Linked DNA regions of Homo sapiens. The protein of the gene in region 1 purifies or fractionates together with the protein of each later gene. This does not show direct contact. Each region holds a gene or a part of one and is shown on either strand. Other genes may lie near its edges. The genes, in order: BCAR1, RPS6KA3, GAK, MOV10, TMOD3, ARPC1A and HBD.

Region 1 (3,500 bases):
GCAGGACAGCCCCCGCCCTCCCGCTCCTCTGTGGGGCTCTGGCCCCTAGACCTGCCGCACTGCCTGTCCCGTCCTGCCTCAGAGCCTGGGACATAGTCCACCGTTTTCTTTTTTTTTCTTTTTGTGTAGTTTTTCAGCCCCAAAGCAAGAAACACTCATTCCTGAAAAACAGGAAGAGAAACTATCTCCATTGTCTCAGACATCTCTGGTGTCTTCCTGACCCTCTCTTGTCTTTACGTTTCACAGGACATTTTCTTGAGATGTGCTTTTCACTTGAGTGCCTTTTTCATTTTGTTGTAATCATGGTGTGGACAGTGTTGCAGCCATCCAGGGCCTCTGCCCTTGTGCTCACCTTGGCTCCAATATGACTCCACCTGGGCCTGCCCTCTCCTAGCTGCCCCCTGGCCCCTCCCTTGGGCCTTGCTCCTCCTGGCTCTCCACACTCCAGCCTCTGGCCCTTTTAGGGACTGGAGGCTCCTAGCTGCTCTGGAGAAATGGGCTCCCTGCTGATGATGTCCACCCAGGGCAAGTGAACCATGGGGTCTGAATGTCTGATCCTGGGACCTGGGGCAACTACTGCCTACCCAGGCCGCTGCCTGGTATGCCATCGCCCTCTGATGCCGGCCAGGGAGATGGCGCTCAGAGGGGCACTGTCCAGCCCCTGCTCATATAGGGGAGGAGGGTGGGCCCTAGGGACTTGAAAGAGGCCTCACCCCCACTCCTCTGCCCCAAGGCACAGGCTCCTGCTTCCTGTTTCTGCCCAAGGGGGCGTGGCCCTTTCTTCCTTGTTTCACTCCTTGCAGATGGAGTCCAGAAAGTGGGACTTGGGCCCAAGTGGGGATGGTCACACAGCTACTGGCTGGCCAGAACCCAGGTCCCATTTCCGAGTCAGAGTCTCGACCAGGCTGCACATCTAAGACGCCAGGAGACTCTGAGGAGGGACCTTGCAGGGCAGCCCAGAGCTGAGGCCAGGCTGGTGGGGTGGCTGGAGCCCAGTGCCGGTCACTGTCCAGCCAGCCTGGCACTGTTCTCACACCCGGCTTCCCTGTGTGTGAAGTCTGGGGCCCCTGTGGAACCCATGCAGCCCTCTGCTGCCCTAGGAGGGGCCGCAGCCCTGGCCTTGTCTCACCCCGTGCCTCCCTCACACCTGCCTTTTGCTGCAACCGCCCACACCCTCCAGCCAGGGATCCTCTGTCTCTCTGGGCCCATCCTGCGCCTGGCACCTCGATGGGGCAGCAGCGGCAGGGGCGAGGATGCATGAGTGTGTGGTGGGAAACTGCGAGGCCTCCCTGCCTGGGCTCTAGTGTCCCAGCGAGGCTCCGCCCCTGCCCTCGCCACGGCACTCATGCCTCTGATCCCACAGCCTCCTCCAAGTCCCTCTCGGACTGCTTGGCTCCTGGGCCACATGGAGCACGTACCCGGCTCTGCAAGGGTTTGCTGAGGGCGACGGGGCCAGGACAGGGAGGGTGTGCCTCCTGTTTCTTTCCCAGCCTTGGGGAAGGTGTTTGAAGTTTCTAAATTAATTACTGACTTTTTGGATTTGGGGTAGATAGACTTTGTTAAGGAAGCTCTGTCTTATTGTTGTTCATTTTTTTATCCTAAGAAGCTGTTCTTTTTGTCAGATTATTTTCGTGCACCTCGAGAGAGAACCATTTGCTATTTGTTTTAACTTGGCAGCTTTGTCGTGATTACTGCCGCTCTCCTTGTGTTGGTCCAGGTAGCAGAGTGGCCTTGGGTGGGGCTTTTAGGGATATCTTGAGGGTCATCCCTGGAGTTTTGGTGGTGACAGTGGTCAAGAGGATTTTGAGGTGCTATACAGGTGCAGTTGAAAGAAAGGCCAGGATCAGCTGGGCCTTTCTGCTGGGGAACAGGTGGGGACAGTGGAGGCAAAGGCACAATGATCTCGCCAAACTCCACTGAGTTCTTTTCCTAGTATCAAAGCTGGGCACCTCCCCAGAGCAGGGCAGGAGCTGGGGAGCCCCTGACGCCCCATGCACATCCTTCTGTTCTCACACCTGTGTCCTCTCTCCCCAGAACGTGCTGGCCAAAGCGCTCTATGACAATGTGGCCGAGTCCCCGGATGAGCTCTCCTTCCGCAAGGGTGACATCATGACGGTGCTGGAGCAGGACACGCAGGGCCTGGACGGCTGGTGGCTCTGCTCGCTGCATGGGCGCCAGGGCATCGTGCCTGGGAACCGCCTCAAGATCTTGGTGGGCATGTATGATAAGAAGCCAGCAGGGCCTGGCCCCGGCCCTCCCGCCACCCCGGCCCAGCCTCAGCCTGGCCTCCATGCCCCAGCGCCTCCGGCCTCCCAGTACACGCCCATGCTCCCCAACACCTACCAGCCCCAGCCAGACAGCGTCTACCTGGTGCCCACTCCCAGCAAGGCTCAGCAAGGCCTCTACCAAGTCCCGGGTCCCAGCCCTCAGTTCCAGTCTCCCCCAGCCAAGCAGACATCCACCTTCTCGAAGCAGACACCCCATCACCCGTTTCCCAGCCCGGCCACAGACCTGTACCAGGTGCCCCCAGGGCCTGGAGGCCCTGCCCAGGATATTTACCAGGTGCCACCTTCTGCCGGGATGGGGCATGACATCTACCAGGTCCCCCCGTCCATGGACACACGCAGCTGGGAGGGCACGAAGCCCCCGGCAAAGGTAAGGCTGTCCTGGCACAGTTGTGCAGCCACACAGGTATAGCCCAGGCCCTGGTTTGTGGGCACAGAAGGGTCCAGCCACCCTCAATCACCGGCATTCCAGGAGTGGCTGTGTGTTTGGTCTGGGGTCAAAGTGGGAAGTGAGTGTTTGGGGGGTGTTCATTTGTCCGGGGAAGATGGATGTGAATGGACCCAGAGGGGAGATGCTCCGCTGGCCTCAGCCAAGCCGACCCGAGTGGTGGTGTCACCAACCACAGGGAGCAGCCTGTTGAGGCGTTCCAGTGGGCAGGCGGGGCTTGGCACATGGGGTCGGCAGTTGCTGGGCCCCCGCAAGGGAGAGGCCAGCCACTTCATGCTCAGGCTCCCCTGTGCCATCTGGGTTTACGTGTCAGCCTCTAGATGGGGTTCCGGCACATCTTCTGGCCGCCCCTGCCTCCACAGGCCAACCCCTCTCCACTTATGGAACATGCTAGGGGCCAGCGGGTGCGTATGGTGATCTGGATGTGACTCCTGGGAGGACGCTGCCCCTGAGATTGCTAGAGGAGGACTGCCCTGAGAGCCTCCTGGGCTCTTGCTGATGGGATGCTGGGCCTGGGGACAAGACCTCTGGCCTCCAGACCCTGAGCCCGCTTCCCAAGTCCACAGGGCCCCTGCCTCCCAAGCTCACCTGCCTGTAGGAAGGAGTCAGCACTAGACACTCAGCCCAGGGCTGAGGTGGAGACCTCATTGGTGCCAGCTGGGCAGCGAGTCAGCTGGGAGTTACCCCCACCCCCGCCCATGGGTGGCCTGGTACCCAGGAGGCATGGCCGGAGGTCGTTGGCGGGTGGGGGACTCCATGGACATGGG
Region 2 (3,500 bases), on another chromosome or scaffold:
AGCAAGTTTTCATTCTATACTTACATTCCAGTCTATCGTTGAGAAAAATGAATGTCTTTTAATTTCTTCAACTCCATCTGGTCCTGCACCTATCAAAAATGGATTCACTGATAATTTTATTTCAAGGAGAAATATACATATTGCTCAGCCTTTGTTTTCAATACTTGTCTAATTAATTAATTAATTAATTAATTAATTTTGAGACAAGGGCTTGCTCTGTCACCCAGGCTGGAGCGCAGTGGTGTGATCTCAGTTCACTGCAGCCTCAACCTCTCAGGCTCAAGTGATCCTCCTACCTCAACTTCCTGAGTAGCTGGGACTACAGGCACGCACCACCATGCCTGGCTAATTTTTGTATTTTTTGTAAAGATGAGGTTTTGCCATTTTTCCCAGGCTGGTCTTGAACTCCTGGACTCAAGTAATTCTCCCGCCTTGGTCTCCCAAAGTGCTGGGATTACAGGCGTGAGCCACCAGGCCTAGCCTTGTCTAAATAGTTAATAATTCCACCACAAAACAAATATCTACTCCCCGCTAAAAACAAACACCAACAAACATACAACATAAACAAATTAGTTAAAATTTTTACCTAATCTGTTTGCAGGATTTCGCTTGAAAAGCATTCGTAAAAGACTCTGCGCTTCAGGACTCAAAAACTGTGGCATTCCAAGTTTGGCTCTAAATAATAAATCCACATAATATTTTATTTTTTGGAGGCATCTGTATTTTTATTTTTAAAAATTCTTAAATTAAACTTTTTGAGATACTTGTAGATTCACACTCAGTTGTAAGAAATAATACAGAGAGATCCCCTGTGCCCTTTACCCAGTTTCCCCCAATGGTAACATCTTACAAAACTACAGTACAATATCACATCCAGGATATTGACATGGAGACAATCCAATGATCTCATTCACATGGCACTGGTTTTATTTGCACTTATTTGTGTGTGTGTTTAGTTCTATGCCATTTTATTACATGTATGGCTTCTGTATGAATATGTCACAGTTTATTTATCCATTATCTGTTGAAGGACATTTGGGTTGTGCCCAGTTTGGGGCTAATATGAATAAAGCTACAGTGAACATTTATGTACAGGTTTTCATGTGAACACATAACTGAATTTTAGTTCATAATCTAATAAGCTTTTTCATTTTTCAAAATTTTGCAAAGAGCACTGTGAAAGTAAGATCATTTGAATCCTAGTTCTGGCTCTGTTACTAAGAACTTTGTGACAGTGGGAAAGCCAATTATTCTGGGCCTGTTATCATTTCTTCATAAGCAAAGGGATTGGTCTCTAGACCAATAGCTCCCAAAGTATAGCCTCGGAACTCCTCCTCAAAGGGAATTTAAGAAACCTAACATTTAAAGCTGCTAAGAGAACATGTGTTTCATATGCCACTTTTTCCTTTCTATTCCCTTTAACAGCCCCTGAAGGGAAGGGGAACTGTGGGAAAGAGGATTGTGAAATATTGAAGATACACAGTCTAAAAACTGCTGGCCTAGATGAACTTGAAGGTCTGTTTCAGCTCTAATTTTAATTCTTTTTCCAAACCTACAAATTAAAGAAACCAATGATCCTGTAAGTATGACAATAATAATAGAGCTGGGGAAAATTCCTATTTCAGAAACAGATCCATTTATTATTCAGTGGGTTGTTATTGAGCTATTACATGCCAGACACTGTTTAGTGCTGAGGATACAGAGATAAAGAGAGCCCATGAAACTCATGGTCCATGGTGAAGATGGATACAGATAATGCTAGTACATTAAGAGACAAATGCAGAAGAACATATGCAAAGAGTGACAAGGGAACAGTAGGGGATATTTAATTTAACATGGGAGATTATGAAAGGTCTTCAATGCAATCTAAAGGCTAACAATTTATTCATTTGGCTAGTGTTTCCCCAAATTTTACTGAATAACATTAATCCCTCTAGATAGTTAGCAACAATAAAAAAATTCATGACCCAATGAGCTTGTAGAATGCTATTTATTATATCCCCCTATTAGACACACAGAATTAAAATACACTGCATATAAAAAGGCTGAGAAATCTAGAGCAAACAAATCAGTTTTTTTTTTTTTTTTTTTTAAGACAGAGTATCCAGGCTGGACTGCAGTGGCACAATCTCGGCTCACTGCAATCTCTGCCTTCTGGGTTCAAGGGATTCTCGTGTCTCAGCCTCCCAAGTAGTTGGGATTACAGGTGTGTGCTACCACACCTGGCTTTTTTTTTTTTTTTTTTTTTTTTTGTAGAGATGGAGTTTTGCCATGTTGACTAGGCTGGTTTTGAACTCCTAGCCTCAAGTGATCCTCCCACTTCAGCCTCTCAAAGTGCTGGGATTATGGGTGAAATCAGTATTTTCTAAGTATTTATTTCCAGCACCTCTTTTTCAAAGAATACCTATTAATATCTTGTAGAATTAATATTCTCTTGGACAAATCTGGGGAAACACTATTGTATTAGGTAACAAGGATGCAGCAGAGGTCCTGAAACTGGACTAACATGACTAGACTTATTTTCAAGAAGGTAACTCCAAGGGTAATAGAGAACAATTTGGAGTGGGAAGAGGTCATAAGTGGTAGGCAATCAACTTAGGAATGTGGTCAGATAGTATGGGTAAGAGGTCACTGTTTTCTGAATACTTTAAGCAGTTTAATTCAGAGGAAAGGCTGGAACAGTGAAATAATTCTGAGATCGAATTTGGAGAATACCTAATTATGCAAAAGAGAGAAGGAATAAAAAATGATTTCCTGGTTTCTGGCTTGGAAGAGGGTGCATGAAAATGCTGATAACTGGGAGTATAAGAAAAGAACAGCAAATAAAGATACATTTAGTTCAAAGATGTGAAGTCATGCATGTAATATGTTTTGGGAGGGCCAGGCAGGTGAGTAAATAGAAACACAGGTCTAATGCCTGGTAAATTCATGTAAGAAAGAGTGATTTGAGAGTAATTAAAATGTGGAGGGTAGTTATAGGAAAGACTGAAGTCAGTCAGGAAAGAGTGCAGAGGGGGAAGAAAAGCATATCATAGACGGATCCTGGGGGATAAGACCATTTAAAAGGTAGTCAGAAAAAGAACAATTAGGGCATTAAAAATAATGACTGCAATTGGCTGAATCACACTGATTATTAAATCCCATGAGTTTATTATGTAAAGTAAGAAAAAGCAAAGTCAAAATACAAAAACTCGACTCACTGGATACTACCCCCACTAGGAAGTAACTAGGGCTCTGACATTAGAAACAATTTAAGAAAAGAATTAAGTATTTATTCTCTTTTTCTTGGATGAGCGTTATTTCAAGTAATTAAATCATCATAGTTGATGAGGGAAAGTTTGTTGAGAAAATACCAGCTAATAAATGAGGAAGGAATAATAATAATAATAGAAAATCATGGCTGGTGCATAGTGGCTCATGCCTGTAATCCCAACACTTTGGGAGGCGGAGGTGGGAGGATCACTTGAGCCCAGGAGTTTGAGACCTGCCTGGCAACATAG
Region 3 (3,500 bases), on another chromosome or scaffold:
CCCGCCTCGTGCGTTTGGTTGGGTGTTGTATGTAATTTGAGCCAGCCCGCAGCCCTTGTGTGCCATGCGCAGTGTTAGCTGAGTGGCTGGGCCCGCTCAGGAGCCTTGGGGGTCAAGCTCTGGCCTAAGGAATGGGGAGGGCACAGCCTACTCCCACCCCCAGGGCCACTTGTGTGTGGTCCTGACTCTCCACCCTTCTTCCTCCTTGACATGGCTTTTGGAGGCTTCCTCCCTTCACTTACTTAGAATGTTCTGGGCCGGGCGCAGTGGCTCACGCCTGTGATCCCAGCACTTTGGGAGGCCGAGGCGGGTGGATTACCTGAGATCGGGAGTTCGAGATCAGCCTGGGCAACACGGGGAAACCCGTCTCTACTAAAAATACAAAATTAGCCGGGTGTGGTGACACATGCCTGTAGTCCCAGCTACTCAGGAGGCTGAGGCAGGAGAATCGCTTGAACCTGGGAGGTGGAGGATGCGGTGAGCCAAGATCACGCCATTGCACTCCAGCCTGGGCAACAAGAGTAAATCTCCGTCTCACCAAAAAAAAAAGAAAAGAAAAAAGAATGTTCTGGACTGGGTGAGGGCACTGTGAATATTTGGTACTGACTGACAGTTGCAGAATCATGTGGTACAAGCAAGACTCTTGGTTGCAAGTTTCAGAAACCCTCCCAGGTGGGCTCAGTGGCAGGAAGGCCCCATGTCTCCAAGGTGGGCTCAGTGGCAGGGGAGGCCGCATGCTGGCCCCATGTGTCCTCCGCAGGGTACACTTGAGATCATTTTCTTTTATTGAAAAGAGTCTGGCTCTGTCGCCCATGTTGAGTGCAGTGGAGCGATCACGACTCACTGCAGCCTTGAACTCCTGGGCCTACGTGATCCCCCTGGCCTAGGCCTCCCAGAGTGCTGGGACGACAGGCATGAGATAATGTGCCCAGCCTTAGACTGATCTTAAAAGTAGACCGGGCCGGGCACGACGGCTCACGCCTGTAATCCCAGCACTTTGGGAGGCCGAGGTGGGCAGATCACCCGAAGTCAGGAGTTCGAAACCAGCCTGACCAACATGGCAAAACCCCATCTCTACTGAAAATACAAAAACTAGCTGGGCATGGTGGCGCGTGCCTGTAATCCCAGCTGCTCAGGAGGCTGAGGCAGGAGAATCACTTGAACCTGGGAGGTGGAGGCTGCAGTGAGCTAAGATTGCACCACTGCACTCCAGCCTGGACGACAGAGCGAGACTCTATCTCAAAAAAAAGTAGACCCTTAGGTTGCTGTGGCGAGCCAGCCTTGTAGCCGACCCTCTTCCCACATAGGACTTGTGACTGAGGGCACCAGCCTCTGAAGCTCCGTGCTGTTCTCTTGGCCATGTGACTGAGGGCACCAGCCTCTGCAGCTCTGTGCTGTTCTCTTAGCCACCAGGGTTCTGTCATCCTTGCTTCTTTGTACCTCTCCTGGACCCAGAGCCTGAAGTGCGGTGGCTGCGCTCACCCAGGGAGGGGTGCGGGGCCTGCGCTCACCCAGGGAGGGGTGCGGGGCAGTGCAGAGCGCAGGTAAGCAGGGAGGGGTGCGGGGCAGTGCAGAGCGCAGGTAAGCAGGGAGGGGTGCGGGGCAGTGCGGAGGGCAGGTGAGCGGGGAGGGGTGCGGGGCAGTGCGGACTACAGGTGAGCGGGGAGGGGTGCGGGGCAGTGCGGACTGCAGGTGAGCCGGGAGGGGTGCGGGGCAGTGCGGACTGCAGGTGAGCCGGGAGGGGTGCGGGGCAGTGCGGACTGCAGGTGAGCCGGGAGGGGTGCGGGGCAGTGCGGACCGCAGGTGAGCGGGGAGGGGTGCGGACTGCAGGTGAGCCGGGAGGGGTGCGGGGCAGTGCGGACTGCAGGTGAGCGGGGAGGGGTGCGGGGCAGTGCGGACTGCAGGTGAGCCGGGAGGGGTGCGGGGCAGTGCGGACTGCAGGTGAGCGGGGAGGGGTGCGGGGCAGTGCGGACTGCAGGTGAGCCGGGAGGGGTGCGGGGCAGTGCGGACTGCAGGTGAGCGGGGAGGGGTGCGGGGCAGTGCGGAGCGCAGGTGAGCCGGGAGGGGTGTGGGGCAGTGCGGAGGGCAGGTGAGCCGGGAGGGGTGCGGGGCAGTGCGGACTGCAGGTGAGCCGGGAGGGGTGCGGGGCAGTGCGGAGCGCAGGTGAGCCGGGAGGGGTGTGGGGCAGTGCGGACTGCAGGTGAGCGGGGAGGGGTGCGGGGCAGTGCGGACTGCAGGTGAGCGGGAAGGGGTGCGGGGCAGTGCGGAGCGCAGGTGAGCGGGGAGGGGTGCGGGGCAGTGCGGAGCGCTGGTGAGCCGGGAGGGGTGCGGGGCAGTGCGGAGCGCAGGTGAGCGGGGAGGGGTGCGGGGCAGTGCGGAGCGCTGGTGAGCCGGGAGGGGTGCGGGGCAGTGCGGAGCGCAGGTGAGCGGGGTGGGGGGGGTTGCGGGGCAGTGCGGAGCGCAGGTGAGCTGGGAGGGGTGCGGGGCAGTGCGGAGCGCAGGTAAGCAGGGTCTCTGGGGCTTGGTTAGTTGGTTCTAGGTCATCAGGCCTGTGAGGCCCAGATTCTGCCACAGAGTAGCTGCCCCCTGGCGGCTCTCCTGGTACCAACCGCCTTCACTTCCAAGTTGACAGCTTGATCATCAACATTTGTCCACTTTGGCTAGTTCCCAGCGTGAAGTAAAAATGGTCAGAACCACCACAGCAACCCTTAGGGGCTCTTCGTATTTGCCGAGCATGGTCAGTAGTACTTTATGTGGATTGTGTGGTCCTCACAGTAGCCCTGGAAAGTGGGTACTATAATTACTTCCATCTCGCAGAAGAGAAAAGTGACGTTTGCAGAGATTAGTTGCTTGCCAGAGGTCGAGTGGTGGAGTGGGGGCTGGGAGCCCCAGGGAGGTGTCCTTAGGGCCCCTGTCCTGGCCCCCGTTGCTCTGCGCATTGTGCCCTGGAGGAGATGTCTGAGCATATAAGGTAGTAGAGGCTGTTGGGGCGGAGAGTGACAGGCCAACACCACTTCATGCTCAGCTGCGGCTGACCCTTGGCAGGAACAAGCCTGTGTTACTTCTGTGGTTTCTGTCTGTTAACATACAGGGAGGTCACTCTTGGGGAGGACCCCATGGGTGGGCTCACCATTGGGGGAGGTCACTGTCGAGGGAGGACCCCCTGGGGTGAATTAGACGTTCGGGGAGGTCACTGTCCAGGGAGGACCCCCTGGGGTGAATTAGACGTTTGGGGAGGTCACTGTCGGGGGAGGACCCCCTTGGGGTGAATTAGACGTTCGGGGAGGTCACTGTTGGGGACGACCCCCGGGTGGGCTCACCACTGGGGGAGGTGACAGTTGGGCTGGGCCACTCCCCTTTCCTCCTCCTCCACTCCGTGGACTCCTGGTGAATTGCTCATGGTTGTCTGTGTGGGTGCGCATCCCCGTGTCCCAGTCCGTCTGTGCTGCTGTAACAGAACGTCGTACACTGGGGGCCTATAAACCACAGACGTTTGTTTA
Region 4 (2,581 bases), on another chromosome or scaffold:
TCTGCAGTAGGGGACCCAGAGTCCCAGGCCCCTGGAGTTGTTTTCGGCAGGGGCCTTGTCTCTCACTGCATTTGGTCAGGGGGGCATGAATAAAGGCTACAGGCTCCAACGTGTGTGGCAGCTTTCGGTCTTTCCCTCTGGGTGCTTGGTGTCCCATCTCTTTTCATGTCCAAGTTGCTTGCCAGCCTGGCCCCCTGTCTACAAAGCAGGCCAGTGGCCAGCAGGGTGGAGTCTTAGAGCAAAGGATGAGGTCATGCCTGGCTCTGGGCCAAGGAGGCGGGTGAAGGGAGTGGTCTGTAGCAGGGGGCTAAACTTAGAAACCTGTGGGTGGCTTCCCTGCCACCTCCCACTGGGTTTCCTCCCCCGAGTGTGGGGGCTGGGTTCCTCTCCAGCTGGGAGGGGATGTGACCCTCAGCAGGGCTGAAAGTCCCACCCTTCCCTACAGGGTCAGCTTAGGGGCTCAGGAAGCTGGGGCCAGGCAGAGGAGACATTATCAAGGCTTTTGCATAGAACAAGATTTTGTTTTCAGAGTTTTCTTCCTTCCCCTTCCCCCAATTGTTAGCAGCTTGATGTGTCATTCTCCCCAGCAGGGGAGGGGGTGGAATGGCTTGGGTTGTAAACTCCCTCCCCCAGCCTTCCTGTCCCTTGGAGGGGCAGTTCAGCTGGGTTCTGGTTCAGGGTCAGGCAGGCAGTTAAGGCTTGGCTGGTGCGAGAAGGCTGGGTGCTGTGTCTTCAGAGCTCATTCCTCCACTCTGGCTCCACTTGCAGAGACAGGCCCCCTTCACCCTCCCGCTCCTGGGGGAGGTAGTCATGGCTGTGGGGCCCTGGAAAGAGAGAAAGTACACTGTGTCTTCCTTACCACCTCCTCTGGCACTGTCCCCACCCTGGCCCAGCCATACCTGAGGTAGAGGGGCTGAGCTTGCTCAGACCTTGCAGTAAATTCTGTCCCTGTTGCAGGTCCAGTTTGGCAGGGAAGGGACACCCGGTATACCCTCCGTTTTCTTTACAGAACTCCAGGAATCTGTGGGGTACAGAGGAGTGCCAGCAGAGACTGGAGGCTAAGCCACGGTCCTGTCCCATCTGAGCTGTACTTGCTCAACCTCTGGATGTCATTTAACTTATAAATACAATAGTGATGCTGTGAAAATGGACACATCTGAGGATTAACTGAGCGATAAGCAAGCGCTTAAAAAAGATCCACCTGCCCTAGGCAGGGGCTGTGGCCACTAAGAGGGAGAATGGGGTGGGAATGCTCACACTTTCCAGTCAGGGTCATGGCCCAGGAGAAGGGGGTTCCCCACGATGATGAGCAGGGCCTTGGCCCGGGTCACAGCTACATTGAACCTCTGGAAGGAAGAAGTGGTGTGGTCATGGGAGGGAAGAGCCCCGAGAATGGAAGAATTCCTGCCACCCCGACCAGCCCTCAAACCTTGGGGTTCTTAAGGAAACCCAGATTAAAGTCCAGATCCAGCTGCACAAAGCTCTGGCTGCTTCGCACGGTGGAGATGAGGATGACGCTTCGTTCTTGGCCTTGGAATTCTTCTACTGAACCCACCTAGTGGGGAAAGAGGCAGGGCCTGAGACCAGCCAGGGGTGTCAAAGGGGTGCCCTACCCCAGGGAGCTTGCCTTCCAAGGAGGGTACAGAGAGGTCACTGGGCAATTGTAGATCAGTGAGTGAACCAGTGCTGCGACACGGCCCAGGGAAAGGGGATGGGAGGTAGGCTGTGGAAGCTGAAACATGAAGGTTGAATCCTGCTGAGGGCTGGGGCCTGCAAAGTGTTCTAAGGAAAGAAAACAGCATTGCAAAGAACACGGGAACTCAGAGCAGTGACTTTCAAACTTTCCTGAAAACAATCACTAAGTATCTGTTAAGAATATACAACCCTGGGCCCTAACCCGGACCCCCGATCAGAATTTCCAAGAGAGAGGCCTGTAAGTCTTAGAGCAGTGTTTTCAACCCTGGCTGCATATTAGAATCACCTGAGAAGCTGTAAAAACTACCAGTGCCCTGGCTCTGCCCCGATAGCTGTATGAGCTGGTGGGTGGGGCCCTGGCATGGGGGCGGGGTATTAAAAGCTCTCCAGGTGATTGTTATCTGCAGCCAGTGTTGAGACCAGAACCTTAAGAGAGAGGCTACTGGGGGTGGGGGTGGCAGCATCACATGACAGGCCACGGAATTTGGACTTTATCCTTAGGGCAGAGGCCTCAAACCTGCCTCAGTCTAAGAATGACAGGAGGTGTTTGTTAAACATGCAGGCTTCCTGATCCCATCCCAGACCCTTAAGTTGGAATCTCCAGGAGTGAGAGGCTCAGGGAGAGCTCGAGCTCTATTCAAGGCAGCAGGGGTGGGACGGGGACGTGGGCTGGAGTGGAAGCTTGAGGAAGTCTCTGGAAGTGGGCAAGTGGGGGCACACGGAAGGCAGGGAGTGACTGTGGAACAGCATGTCACCTTCAAGTCCTTGATGTCATCCAGTCCTCGAAGCTCCCTGTCAAGTTTGGTGATGCAGTAACGGATTTTCTCCACCTGGAAGGAGGGGACAGGTGCCTTTCTCTCGTGCCATTAACCTAATGCAAGAGGGA
Region 5 (3,500 bases), on another chromosome or scaffold:
TATGTACTAATTTCCAAGGCAGGGGCCAAAAGAAATGGTCAAGGCAGAAGGCCAGAAAAGAACACAGATAACCAGAACCAGAAGAGCACAAAGGCCATTGAGAAGAAGGGGCTAATAAAATATTAAATTCCTCAAGTAATGGTATGTCTTCAATCTGCTTCTATTTCATTTCTCATAGGATACAGTACAGTGTTAGACATTTGACTCAGTGCTTAATAAGTACCATATTGATTAATTAACAGAAGCCTACAAGTGAAAAAAGAAAGAGGAGGGAGACTGGGAAGGAAAGAAAAAGAGACAGAGGTAGGAAGAGAGAAGAAGGGAAGGAAGGAGGGGAAGGAAAGAGAGAGAAAAAAGAACAATGATCATGAGTTTATATAAAACAGCCCCTTAGAGGGATCAAAAGCAAGGTTAAACTACAGAAAATATGGGTAAGACCAAGCTTAAAGTTAAAGGAAAGGCAATAGGGCGTAGAGATACTAAAAAAACTGTGGCTGGTATCTACATACTTGTCCTTTCTATTAGCAACAACTAGCTATGTGACCTGGAACAAATCCCTTATCCATACATGTATTCGAATATTACTGATGGTCTATTATTTGATTAGCACTGTCCTAGAGATTCAGAGATAAAACACATTGGTCCCTGCCTGGCAGAATGTTCATTCTAGCTGGGGAGGGACACAGATAATAAAAGTAAGCAAAGTGCAATGTTAGAGGGTAAAAAGAAAAAAGGCACAATAGGGTAGATGGGGAATACTGGGGGTGGGAATGGGGTTGGTATTTTATATAGCACGGTCAGGAAAAGCCTCAACTAGAAGGTGACATTTGAGCAAAGAGTCAAAGTGATAAGACAAAGCTAAGTGGATTATTTTAGGAAGAAAGTTCAAGGCAGAAGGAACAAATGTACAGGCCCTGATTTGGGAGTCCACATGGCATGCTGAAGAAGGCTGTATGGCTAGAGTAGAATGAAAGAAAGGGCAAGTAAATGAGATGAAGTCCACTCATGTGAAGCCTTATAAGGCCACTGAAAGATTTTTATTTTTACTCTTAATGAGATGGGAAGCTGCTAGAGGGTTATCCGAATAGGAATGAGGTCATTTAACTTAAGTTTTAAAAGAATCACTCTTGGTGCTATGTAAAGAACTGACTTTGGGGTAGGTAAAATAGATGAAGGTAACCCAATTAGGAGGCTGTTGCAATAATCCAGGTGGGAAAAGATGGTGGCTTGGGTCAAGGTGGTAGTTGTGAAAATGGTGAGAAGTGGTTGGATTCTGAAATATTTTGAAGATAGGGCCAAAGGTAGGTTTAAGTTGCAAGAAAGGGATGTCGAGAATGATTCCATTAGTTTTTTGTTTTTTTTTTTTTTTTTGCTGGGCGTGGTGGCTCACGCCTGTAATCCTAGCACTTTGGGAGGTTGAGGTGGGCGGATCACAAGGTCAGGAGCTCGAGACCAGCCTGGCCAATATGGTGAAACCACATCTCTACTATAAATACAAAAATTAGCCAGGCGTGGTGGCGCATGCCTGTAATCCCAGCTACTCAGGAGGCTGAGGCAGGAGAATCGCTTGAACCCGGGAGGCGGAGGTTGCAGTGAGCCGAGATTGCGCCACTGCACTCTAGCCGGGGCAACAGAGTGAGACGCTGTCTCAAAAAAAAAAAAAAAAAAAATTTTTTTTTTTTGTTTGCCTGAGCAATGAAAGATTGAAATTGCATTTAGTAAGATAGAAAACAGCAGAGAAAAGCAGGCACAGGATGGAAGTCAGGAGTTTGAGGACTTACATGTAAGATGTCCATTAGACATCCAAGTAAAGCTGCTGAGGAGGTAGCTGGACATGAATACGGAGTTCAGGAGAGAGATACAAACTGTAGATAATAACACTGGGAGTCATCAGCAAGTATATGAAGATAATATATATATTTCTGAGATTACCCAGAAAGTCAGTGTAGACTGAGAAAAGAAGGACCACGTTCTGGGCCATTCCAATATTTAGAAGTTGAAGAGATATGGAGAAACCAGTACAGGGCTTTGAGAAGGAATGTCCACTGAGGTAAGGGGAGCCCCCAAGGGAGTGAGTGATATTCTCAAAGCCAATGAAACAAAAGGTTTATACCATGATCAAGTGGGATTTATCTCAGGAATGAAAGGCTGGTTCAACATATAAAAGTCAATCAATACACCACATTGACAGAATAAAGGACAAAAACCATATGAACATCTCAAGAGACACAGCAAAAGCATTTAACAAAAATCCACCACTAAGGATCCATAAATGGAATCCTCTGAAGATGTTAAAATAATGTGGTAGATCCCTATGTATTGATACAACAAAACTTTAAAGATAAACTGCAGAGTGAAAAATCAAGTTGCAGAACAGCATATACTACATGATTCCATTTATGTTTTAAAAAATTCATAGGAAGGAGGGGGAAGCTGGGAGGGGGAAAAAATTCATAGGAAGGAAATACAGGAAAAAATAAACACAAAAAGCTGGTAAGTAATATACTGCCTAATAGTGAGCTAAAACATTAACTATAAAAAAGGGGTAAATCTTGTTCATAAAAATCACCACTGTAACACACCCTGGGCATGTCATAATTTTGATATTCTCAAGTCGCTTACTTACAGTAGCAACAGGGTCATTGCTCCGGGTGGCTGCAAGACTGAAACATTTCACATGTGTGTTGGTTTCCAAAGCCTTTGCAAAATCTTTTAGGGTTGGAATTGGGATATTCTTGAAAGACAATAACATAAAACATCATTACATTTCAATTTTCATTATATTTAGTTTCCATTAATCAAATATATGGTTTTTTTTGCTTTAAAATGTATTCAGAAATTATACAAACACCTAAGAATTAGTCTACAAATGAATACAAATAATGCAGCTTCCTCCATAATTATCTGACTTATCTACGATGGAGCATTTGCATAAACTACTGACTCAGAGCAGAGCACATATCACCATTTCTCTAGCATTTAGGTTAAAAAAAATTCTCATTATTCTCACCTTTCATTATTCCTTTTATTTATTTATGTATTTTGAGACAGAGTTTTGCTCTTGTTGCCCAGGTTGGAGTGCAACGGCGCAATCTCAGCTCACTGCAACCTCTATCTCCCAGGTTTAAGCAACCCTCCTGCCTCAGCCTCCCAAGTAGCTGAGATTACAGGCATGCACCACCAGGTCCAGCTAATTTTGTATTTTTAGGAGAGATGGGGTTTCATCATGTTGGTCAGGCTGGTCCCGAACTCCTGACCTCAGGTGATCCACCCTCCTCGGCCTCCCAAAGTGCTGGGATTACAGGCATGAGTCACTGCACCCAGCCTTCATTATTCTTTTTATATGAAAATAAAAGTGGATTTACTTTTCTACAAGGAAAGAAATGAAGGAGTCCATCTCTGATGAGTACGATTCCTGAGGCAGACAGACTGTTCTCAGTCACTTAGTTTAAGCTACAAAGCACTAAGAGAGATTAACCCTACACTACTTGAAGGAGAGA
Region 6 (3,500 bases), on another chromosome or scaffold:
AAGGAGTACCAGCTGACATAAAGTTTAGCCTTGAGAGAATATTAATGAAGTTAGTTTCCTATCTCATTACAATGAAACTTCCAAATAGTTTCTAGCAGGTAACATTTTGTTAGCCTTGATTTCACATTTGAAAGAAAAATGTATGTTTCAAATTCGTAACTCAATTTTTTTTTTTTTTTTTGAGACGGAGTTTCACTCTTGATGCCCAGGCTGGAGTGCAATGGCGTGATCTCGGCTCACCGCAACCTCTGCCTACTGGGTTCAAGAGATTCTCCTGCCTCAGCCTCCCAGGTAGCTGGGATTACAGGCATGCACCACCACACCCCGTTAATTTTTTTGTATTTTTAGTAGAGACAGGGTTTATCCGTGTTGGTCAGGCTGGTCTCGAACTCCTGACCTCAGGTGATCCACCTGCCTCGGCCTCCCAAAGTGCTGGGGTTACAGGCATGAGCCACTGTACCTGGCCCATAACTCAATTTTACCGCAAATTCCCAATCTCTTTTTGAAGAATAAAATTTCTGAAGTTTTACTAAATTACAAAGGTAACATGATAATCCCCTTCTTTCAATTTCAGCAGAATACAAATAACAAAACAGCTACAAAGAGTCATGTATACTCTGCTATTTTTAGTAGAAACACAAACACTGCCAGTTTAGTAGTAAATGACAACTTTACGTTGAAGGATATTTACCAGTCATGCTGAACACATGCCACACAGAAAAATAATTTTTTTTTTTTTTGAGATAGAATCTCACTTTGCCGCCCAGGCTGGAGTGCAGTGGCACGATCTTGGCTCACTGCAACCTCTGCCCTCCGAGTTCAAGTAATTCTCCTGCTTCCTCCCAAGTAGGTGGGATTACAGGTACCTGCCACTGTGCCTGGCTAATTTTTGTATTTTTAGTAGAGATGGGGTTTCACCATCTTGGCCAGGCTGGAGAATAATTGTTTCCTTATCAAAACAAACAGGAAGGAGTAGTTAAAATAAGTTTTGGCCATAAAATAAACCTGTGTTTTGACTGGGTCAGCAAGAAGTAATTTAAAAAATGTGCAATAGCTGATTAGACTTCTAAGATTCTGGTGAGTTTTGACTTCAACAGTTTAAACAAGTAAAATATTACACCAAGACACAGATTTGGTTGGCAAATAAGCTTTAAAGAAGGAACATTGACCAGGCGTGGTGGCTCACGCCTGTAATCCCAGCACTTTGGGAGGCCGAGGCGGTGGATCATGAGGTCAGGAGTTCATGACCAGCCTGGCCAAGATGGTGAAACCTTGTCTCTACTAAAACTACAAAAATTAGCCGGGCACGATGGCAGGTGACTGTAATCCCAGCTACTCAGGAGGCTGAGGCAGGAGAATTGCTTGAACCAGGGGGCGGACGTTGCAGTGAGCCATGATCGTGTCACTGCGCTCCATCCAGCCTGGGCAACAGAGTAAGACTCTGTCTCAAAAAAAAAAAAAAAAAAAAAAAAAAAAAGAACATTGTTATCTGTAGGAATCCTACATAGATATCCTGTGAAAAAAAAAAAAAAAGAAAAAATATTCCTCAGGGAACGGAGACTCTTTCAATGTTATTATTTGTAAATGAGAGTAAGAAAACAGCAATTTGCGCAGTATAGAGTGAGAACAGTAATAGCATCTTGCAGAAGAAACAAGTTAGGCGATCAGAACATGGACACAATAGCTCTATGTTAATATAAAAAACGTGCGATTTAACTTAACATGCACATGAGAAGGGAAAATGCTCAGACAGAATCGAGAATTTCAGAGAAAAAACCACACAACTCCGGATGAGAAAAACTGGAGTTATGGTGAGCCCTCACACAGCAGTGCAAATGTAAATTCTATAGAGAGGGATAGAAAAAATTCAGATGTCACTCACCAGTCATTTTCAGACTCAAAGTAACAAACAGAAATGAGTCGTGCTCCACTTCCCACAGCAAATTTGTTCTCTAGGGGGGACCACTTCACAAAAGTAGCTGCGCGATTAATTCTCAGGATCACCAGGGTTGGCTTCCAAACACCATCTTTCTGACTCCAGACATAGGCATTGCGGTCTGCCCCACAAGTGACAATGCGGTCGCTCTTGGGAGCCCAGTCAATACCTGCAAGTGAGACATGGGTCATCTGCTTTGCCCAGTCAATGACAAACAACTGCGGCACAGGCAGGTGGGTGGCACTGGCATGCCAGGATGAGACGTGGTCTTGGGACCTTCCTCCCAGGCACATCCTTCCCACTATCTATGTCCTGATCACCGCCTCAAGGAAAGGCAAGGATGCTTCTCTGCAAAGCGTCTGGGACTCGGGATTGTCTATGAGGTCATGTAGAAGAGCTGTTTTATAATTACAGACTTTACAAAACTAAACGGGGCCATTCTTTCCACCCATTCACACATTTCTAAGACTTCTAAAGATCTGAAGATTCATTACTTCTTTCTTTCCTCTTTATTAGATTTTTGTGTGTGTGAAAATAACTGTATTCATTAACACACCTCATTCTATGATATTAACCAACAGTCTGCTACATGGCATTCAACTAAAACAGCATACAGGGTAAATAAAAATAATCTTTAGTGTAAAGAGGGGGAACTATATATTGTGATTCATCATATATTCTTCTGAAAGTCACTGCCAGTTGAACCATACTGAAAACCTTTTCTACATGATGCAGGTCCTGTGAAAGAATCCTTGTTTCTTTGCATCTAAACCAGGAAGATACCTAAATATGTATCTGAATGTAAGGTTTATTTTTCTTATTTGATGAGACTTTACTTATCTGGTACCTCTGTGAAGAATCCCAAAGTCAAGGTCAGTTTTTCATATACCAAGACTCAAGGTCAGTTTCTTATATACCAAGAGCAAAATTCACCATGACTCATTTAACACTTATTGATGAGGTATTTTCTTTTCTTTTCTTTCTTTTTTTTTTTTGAGATGGAGTTTCACTCTTGCAGCCCAGGGTGGAGTACAATGGCACGATCTCAGCTCACTGCAACCTCCGCCTCCCGGGTTCAAGCGATTCTCCTGCCTCAGCCTCCCGAGTAGCTGGGATTACAGGCAGATGCCACCATGCCCGGCTAATTTTTGTATTTTTAGTAGAGACGGGGTTTCACCATGTTGACCAGGCTGGTCTCGAACTCCTGACTTCAGGCGATCTGCCTGTCTCAGCCTCCAAAGTGCTGGGATTATAGGCATGAGCCACAGTGCCTGGCCTTGATGAGGTATTTTCTATAAATATAATTTCACATTAAAAAGTACAGAAATATTACTAATAAATATTTATTACAGATCTCTCTCTAAAAATTAATAATTAGCATTCTTGACATTTATATGGAAAAAAGACAAATATACCTCTGAGCCTCAATTACCCATAAGTCATAGTGACTGAAGAGTTAGGCCGGGCGCGGTGGCTCTTTGGGAGGCCGAGGCAGGCGGATCACGAGGTTAGGAGATCGAGACTATCCTGGCTAACACGGTGAAACCCTGTCCCTATTAAAAAT
Region 7 (3,397 bases), on another chromosome or scaffold:
ATCTTGACTGAAATATGGGAAGATAAGAGGAAATTCTTTACAGAGATGTTCTGGGGCAAGTAAGAGGAGGAAGCTATTTCTTGGAGCAGGAACACTTGATGGGGTATAGTATTATGGGCTACAATGTGCAGGCAAAGGAAGGAGGAAGAAAGACAACATAACATTGTCTTGAGTAATCATTATGCCTTTAATTGAGCACATTATTTTCTCAGTAATTGTTGGAGTTTAATCGTAGCATTACCCTTGAGGCTATGTCTTAGGGTTGAGGTCTTCCCTAGAACCTCTGCAGTGCCAGTATTATCTTTGTATCAAGAGTTCTTGATAATTTCTGCTCTTTGGAGGTAGAAGTGTCACCCATTAATGCCTTGTACGGTTCCCTTGCTTTTCTCTTTTCCCATGTACTCTTTGTAAAATAAACAAGTGCTCCCTATCTGTAGAGCCTCAGGAACCTTCTTACACACCTGGACAAAAAAATGAAATAAGTGAAATTAATCAGGAAGTTGAGCTGAACATTCTTTATTAGGCAGAAGCCATACCCTTGAAGTAGGCATTGTGTTCCCAAGTTCAGAAAATAGAATCTAGGGAAATAGGGTCTTCTTATGGTTATCAGGAAACAGTCCAGGATCTCAATGGTACTTGTGAGCCAGGGCATTAGCCACACCAGCCACCACCTTCTGATAGGCAGCCTGCATTTGTGGGGTGAATTCCTTGCCAAAGTTGCGGGCCAGCACACACACCAGCACATTGCCCAAGAGCTGCGGAGAAGAGGTAGGCAGATACATGCATATGGTTAACAGAGAAATAAAGACTGGCTTCTGAGAAACTGAGCCAACACCCATTTTTTTCTGCCCAAATCTTAGACAAAACTGATCCCCAGGTTATTCCCATCAGCATAAATAAGTACATATATGAATGCATACATATAACATATATCTATACACACACATCCTCTATGTACTTAACTAGCATGTAGTCTATATATGTACATATATGCTATATATGCTGTATAATACTATATACAAATTAATTCCAAATTAGTTTTAATTTTGTATGTGTATATAGCATATACAAATTAATTACTATAAACAGATTAATAGATACAAATTAATTGATTAATCAGTGTGATGATGGGCTGTCTCCTAGCAACGACTTCTGCCCCACCTCCAGTGTAACTGCCTAGTCTTTCATAATCAAATATTCACTTTCCTTTCCATTCCATTTACTACAGAATTTATAAAATTCCAATTATTCCTTATTGTAAAATGATTTATAGCCTCTAAAACAGTATTCTATGCCTCTCATCTTTGAGTTGGAGCCTCTCCCATACCCATGTGGAGAGACAAAAGGATTATTCTAAGTGCAGAATTAGCAGGTGAGAGCTGGTATGCATAATTTGAGTTGTTGTTAGAGAAGGAAAAATGAAGGGAGGGGGTTGGGAGAGAAAGACAGGATATTAAATAATTTAAAATAGCAAGATTGTGAGGAAGGAAAAAATGCAGAATATTTAAATAAAAAATTAACAAAATTTTAGAAGCATTAAATGATAAAATATAGTAAAATGACAAAAATGTGGGAGAAGAGCAGGTAGGTAAAAGAACCAAAATGTAAGATTAGAAAGTAAAAAGAGAAAAGTGAAGCATCTCCTGGACTCACCCTGAAGTTCTCAGGATCCACGTGCAGCTTGTCACAGTGCAGCTCACTCAGCTGAGAAAAAGTGCCCTTGAGGTTGTCCAGGTGAGCCAGGCCATCACTAAAGGCACCTAGCACCTTCTTGCCATGAGCCTTCACCTTAGGGTTGCCCATAACAGCATCAGGAGAGGACAGATCCCCAAAGGACTCAAAGAACCTCTGGGTCCAAGGGTAGACCACCAGTAATCTGAGGGTAGGAAAACAGCCCAAGGGACAGAGAGTCAGTGCCTATCAGAAACCCAAGAGTCTTCTCTGTCTACACATGCCCAGTTTCCATTTGCCTCCTTGAGCCTCTCTTATAACCTTGATACCAACCTGCCCAGGGCCTCACCACCAACTGCATCCACGTTCACTTTGCCCCACAGGGCATTGACAGCAGTCTTCTCCTCAGGAGTCAGATGCACCATGGTGTCTGTTTGAGGTTGCTAGTGAACACTGTTATGTCAGAAGAAAGTGTAAGCAACAGTCGACTCTGCCCTGCCTTTTATGCTGGTCCTGTCCTCCCTGCTCCAGTGAGCAGGTTGGTTTAAGATAAGCAGGGTTTCATTAGTTTGTGAGAATGAAAAATGAACCTTCATTCCACTATTCCCTTAACTTGCCCTGAGATTGGCTGTTCTGTCATGTGTGTCTTGACTCAGAAACCCTGTTCTCCTCTACATATCTCCCCACCGCATCTCTTTCAGCAGTTGTTTCTAAAAATATCCTCCTAGTTTCATTTTTGCAGAAGTGTTTTAGGCTAATATAGTGGAATGTATCTTAGAGTTTAACTTATTTGTTTCTGTCACTTTATACTAAGAAAACTTATCTAAAAGCAGATGTTTTAACAAGTTGACTCAATATAAAGTTCTTCTTTGCCTCTAGAGATTTTTGTCTCCAAGGGAATTTTGAGAGGTTGGAATGGACAAATCTATTGCTGCAGTTTAAACTTGCTTGCTTCCTCCTTCTTTTGGTAAATTCTTCCTATAATAAAACTCTAATTTTTTATTATATTGAAATAAATATCCATTAAAAGAATATTTAAAAAATGAATAGTGTTTATTTACCAGTTATTGAAATAGGTTCTGGAAACATGAATTTTAAGGTTAACATTTTAATGACAGATAAAATCAAATATTATATACAAATATTTTGAATGTTTAAAATTATGGTATGACTAAAGAAAGAATGCAAAGTGAAAAGTAGATTTACCATATTCAGCCAGATTAAATTTAACGAAGTTCCTGGGAATATGCTAGTACAGAACATTTTTACAGATGTGTTCTTAAAAAAAAATGTGGAATTAGACCCAGGAATGAAGATCCCAGTAGTTTTTCACTCTTTTCTGAATTCAAATAATGCCACAATGGCAGACAAATACACACCCATGAGCATATCCAAAAGGAAGGATTGAAGGAAAGAGGAGGAAGAAATGGAGAAAGGAAGGAAGGAAGAGGGGAAGAGAGAGGATGGAAGGGATGGAGGAGAAGAAGGAAAAATAAATAATGGAGAGGAGAGGAGAAAAAAGGAGGGGAGAGGAGAGGAGAAGGGATAGGGAAGAGAAAGAGAAAGGGAAGGGAAGAGAGGAAAGAAGAGAAGAGGAGAGAAAAGAAACGAAGAGAGGGGAAGGGAAGGAAAAAAAAGAGGAAAAAAGAGACAAGAGAAGAGATAAGACTGACAGTTCAAATTTTGGTGGTGATATGGATCAATAGAAACTCAAACTCTGTTGGTG

The links.
Region 2: the proteins of BCAR1 (region 1) and RPS6KA3 purify together in Homo sapiens (affinity purification with mass spectrometry; 2 studies listed by BioGRID). This does not show direct contact.
Region 3: the proteins of BCAR1 (region 1) and GAK purify together in Homo sapiens (affinity purification with mass spectrometry; 2 studies listed by BioGRID and IntAct, with this or other methods). This does not show direct contact.
Region 4: the proteins of BCAR1 (region 1) and MOV10 purify together in Homo sapiens (affinity purification with mass spectrometry; 2 studies listed by BioGRID and IntAct, with this or other methods). This does not show direct contact.
Region 5: the proteins of BCAR1 (region 1) and TMOD3 purify together in Homo sapiens (affinity purification with mass spectrometry; 2 studies listed by BioGRID and IntAct, with this or other methods). This does not show direct contact.
Region 6: the proteins of BCAR1 (region 1) and ARPC1A purify together in Homo sapiens (affinity purification with mass spectrometry; 2 studies listed by BioGRID and IntAct, with this or other methods). This does not show direct contact.
Region 7: the proteins of BCAR1 (region 1) and HBD purify together in Homo sapiens (affinity purification with mass spectrometry; 2 studies listed by BioGRID and IntAct, with this or other methods). This does not show direct contact.

What each region holds. Positions count from the first base shown.
Region 1 is NC_000016.10:75,241,625-75,245,124, reverse strand, and holds part of BCAR1 (breast cancer anti-estrogen resistance protein 1), read left to right. Parts: intron 1-2,034; coding exon 2,035-2,655; intron 2,656-3,500. UniProt on the Homo sapiens protein: Docking protein which plays a central coordinating role for tyrosine kinase-based signaling related to cell adhesion. Implicated in induction of cell migration and cell branching. Involved in the BCAR3-mediated inhibition of TGFB signaling.
Region 2 is NC_000023.11:20,176,410-20,179,909, forward strand, and holds part of RPS6KA3 (ribosomal protein S6 kinase alpha-3), read right to left. Parts: intron 676-3,500; coding exon 587-675; intron 108-586; coding exon of another isoform or gene 90-107; coding exon 25-89; intron 1-24. UniProt on the Homo sapiens protein: Serine/threonine-protein kinase that acts downstream of ERK (MAPK1/ERK2 and MAPK3/ERK1) signaling and mediates mitogenic and stress-induced activation of the transcription factors CREB1, ETV1/ER81 and NR4A1/NUR77, regulates translation through RPS6 and EIF4B phosphorylation, and mediates cellular proliferation, survival, and differentiation by modulating mTOR signaling and repressing pro-apoptotic function of BAD and DAPK1.
Region 3 is NC_000004.12:925,817-929,316, reverse strand, and holds part of GAK (cyclin-G-associated kinase), read left to right. Parts: intron 1-3,500. UniProt on the Homo sapiens protein: Associates with cyclin G and CDK5. Seems to act as an auxilin homolog that is involved in the uncoating of clathrin-coated vesicles by Hsc70 in non-neuronal cells. Expression oscillates slightly during the cell cycle, peaking at G1.
Region 4 is NC_000001.11:112,698,659-112,701,239, reverse strand, and holds the end of MOV10 (helicase MOV-10), read right to left. Parts: coding exon of another isoform or gene 2,567-2,581; exon of another isoform or gene 2,526-2,566; coding exon 2,451-2,525; exon of another isoform or gene 2,427-2,450; intron 1,783-2,426; coding exon of another isoform or gene 1,669-1,782; exon of another isoform or gene 1,556-1,668; coding exon 1,430-1,555; intron 1,347-1,429; coding exon 1,258-1,346; intron 1,022-1,257; coding exon 900-1,021; intron 825-899; coding exon 733-824; 3' UTR 501-732; downstream 1-500.
Region 5 is NC_000015.10:51,895,653-51,899,152, reverse strand, and holds part of TMOD3 (tropomodulin-3), read right to left. Parts: intron 2,735-3,500; coding exon 2,627-2,734; intron 1-2,626. UniProt on the Homo sapiens protein: Blocks the elongation and depolymerization of the actin filaments at the pointed end. The Tmod/TM complex contributes to the formation of the short actin protofilament, which in turn defines the geometry of the membrane skeleton.
Region 6 is NC_000007.14:99,342,898-99,346,397, reverse strand, and holds part of ARPC1A (actin-related protein 2/3 complex subunit 1A), read right to left. Parts: intron 2,106-3,500; coding exon 1,883-2,105; intron 1-1,882. UniProt on the Homo sapiens protein: Probably functions as a component of the Arp2/3 complex which is involved in regulation of actin polymerization and together with an activating nucleation-promoting factor (NPF) mediates the formation of branched actin networks.
Region 7 is NC_000011.10:5,232,338-5,235,734, forward strand, and holds HBD (hemoglobin subunit delta), read right to left. Parts: upstream 2,147-3,397; 5' UTR 2,097-2,146; coding exon 2,005-2,096; intron 1,877-2,004; coding exon 1,654-1,876; intron 756-1,653; coding exon 627-755; 3' UTR 501-626; downstream 1-500. UniProt on the Homo sapiens protein: Involved in oxygen transport from the lung to the various peripheral tissues.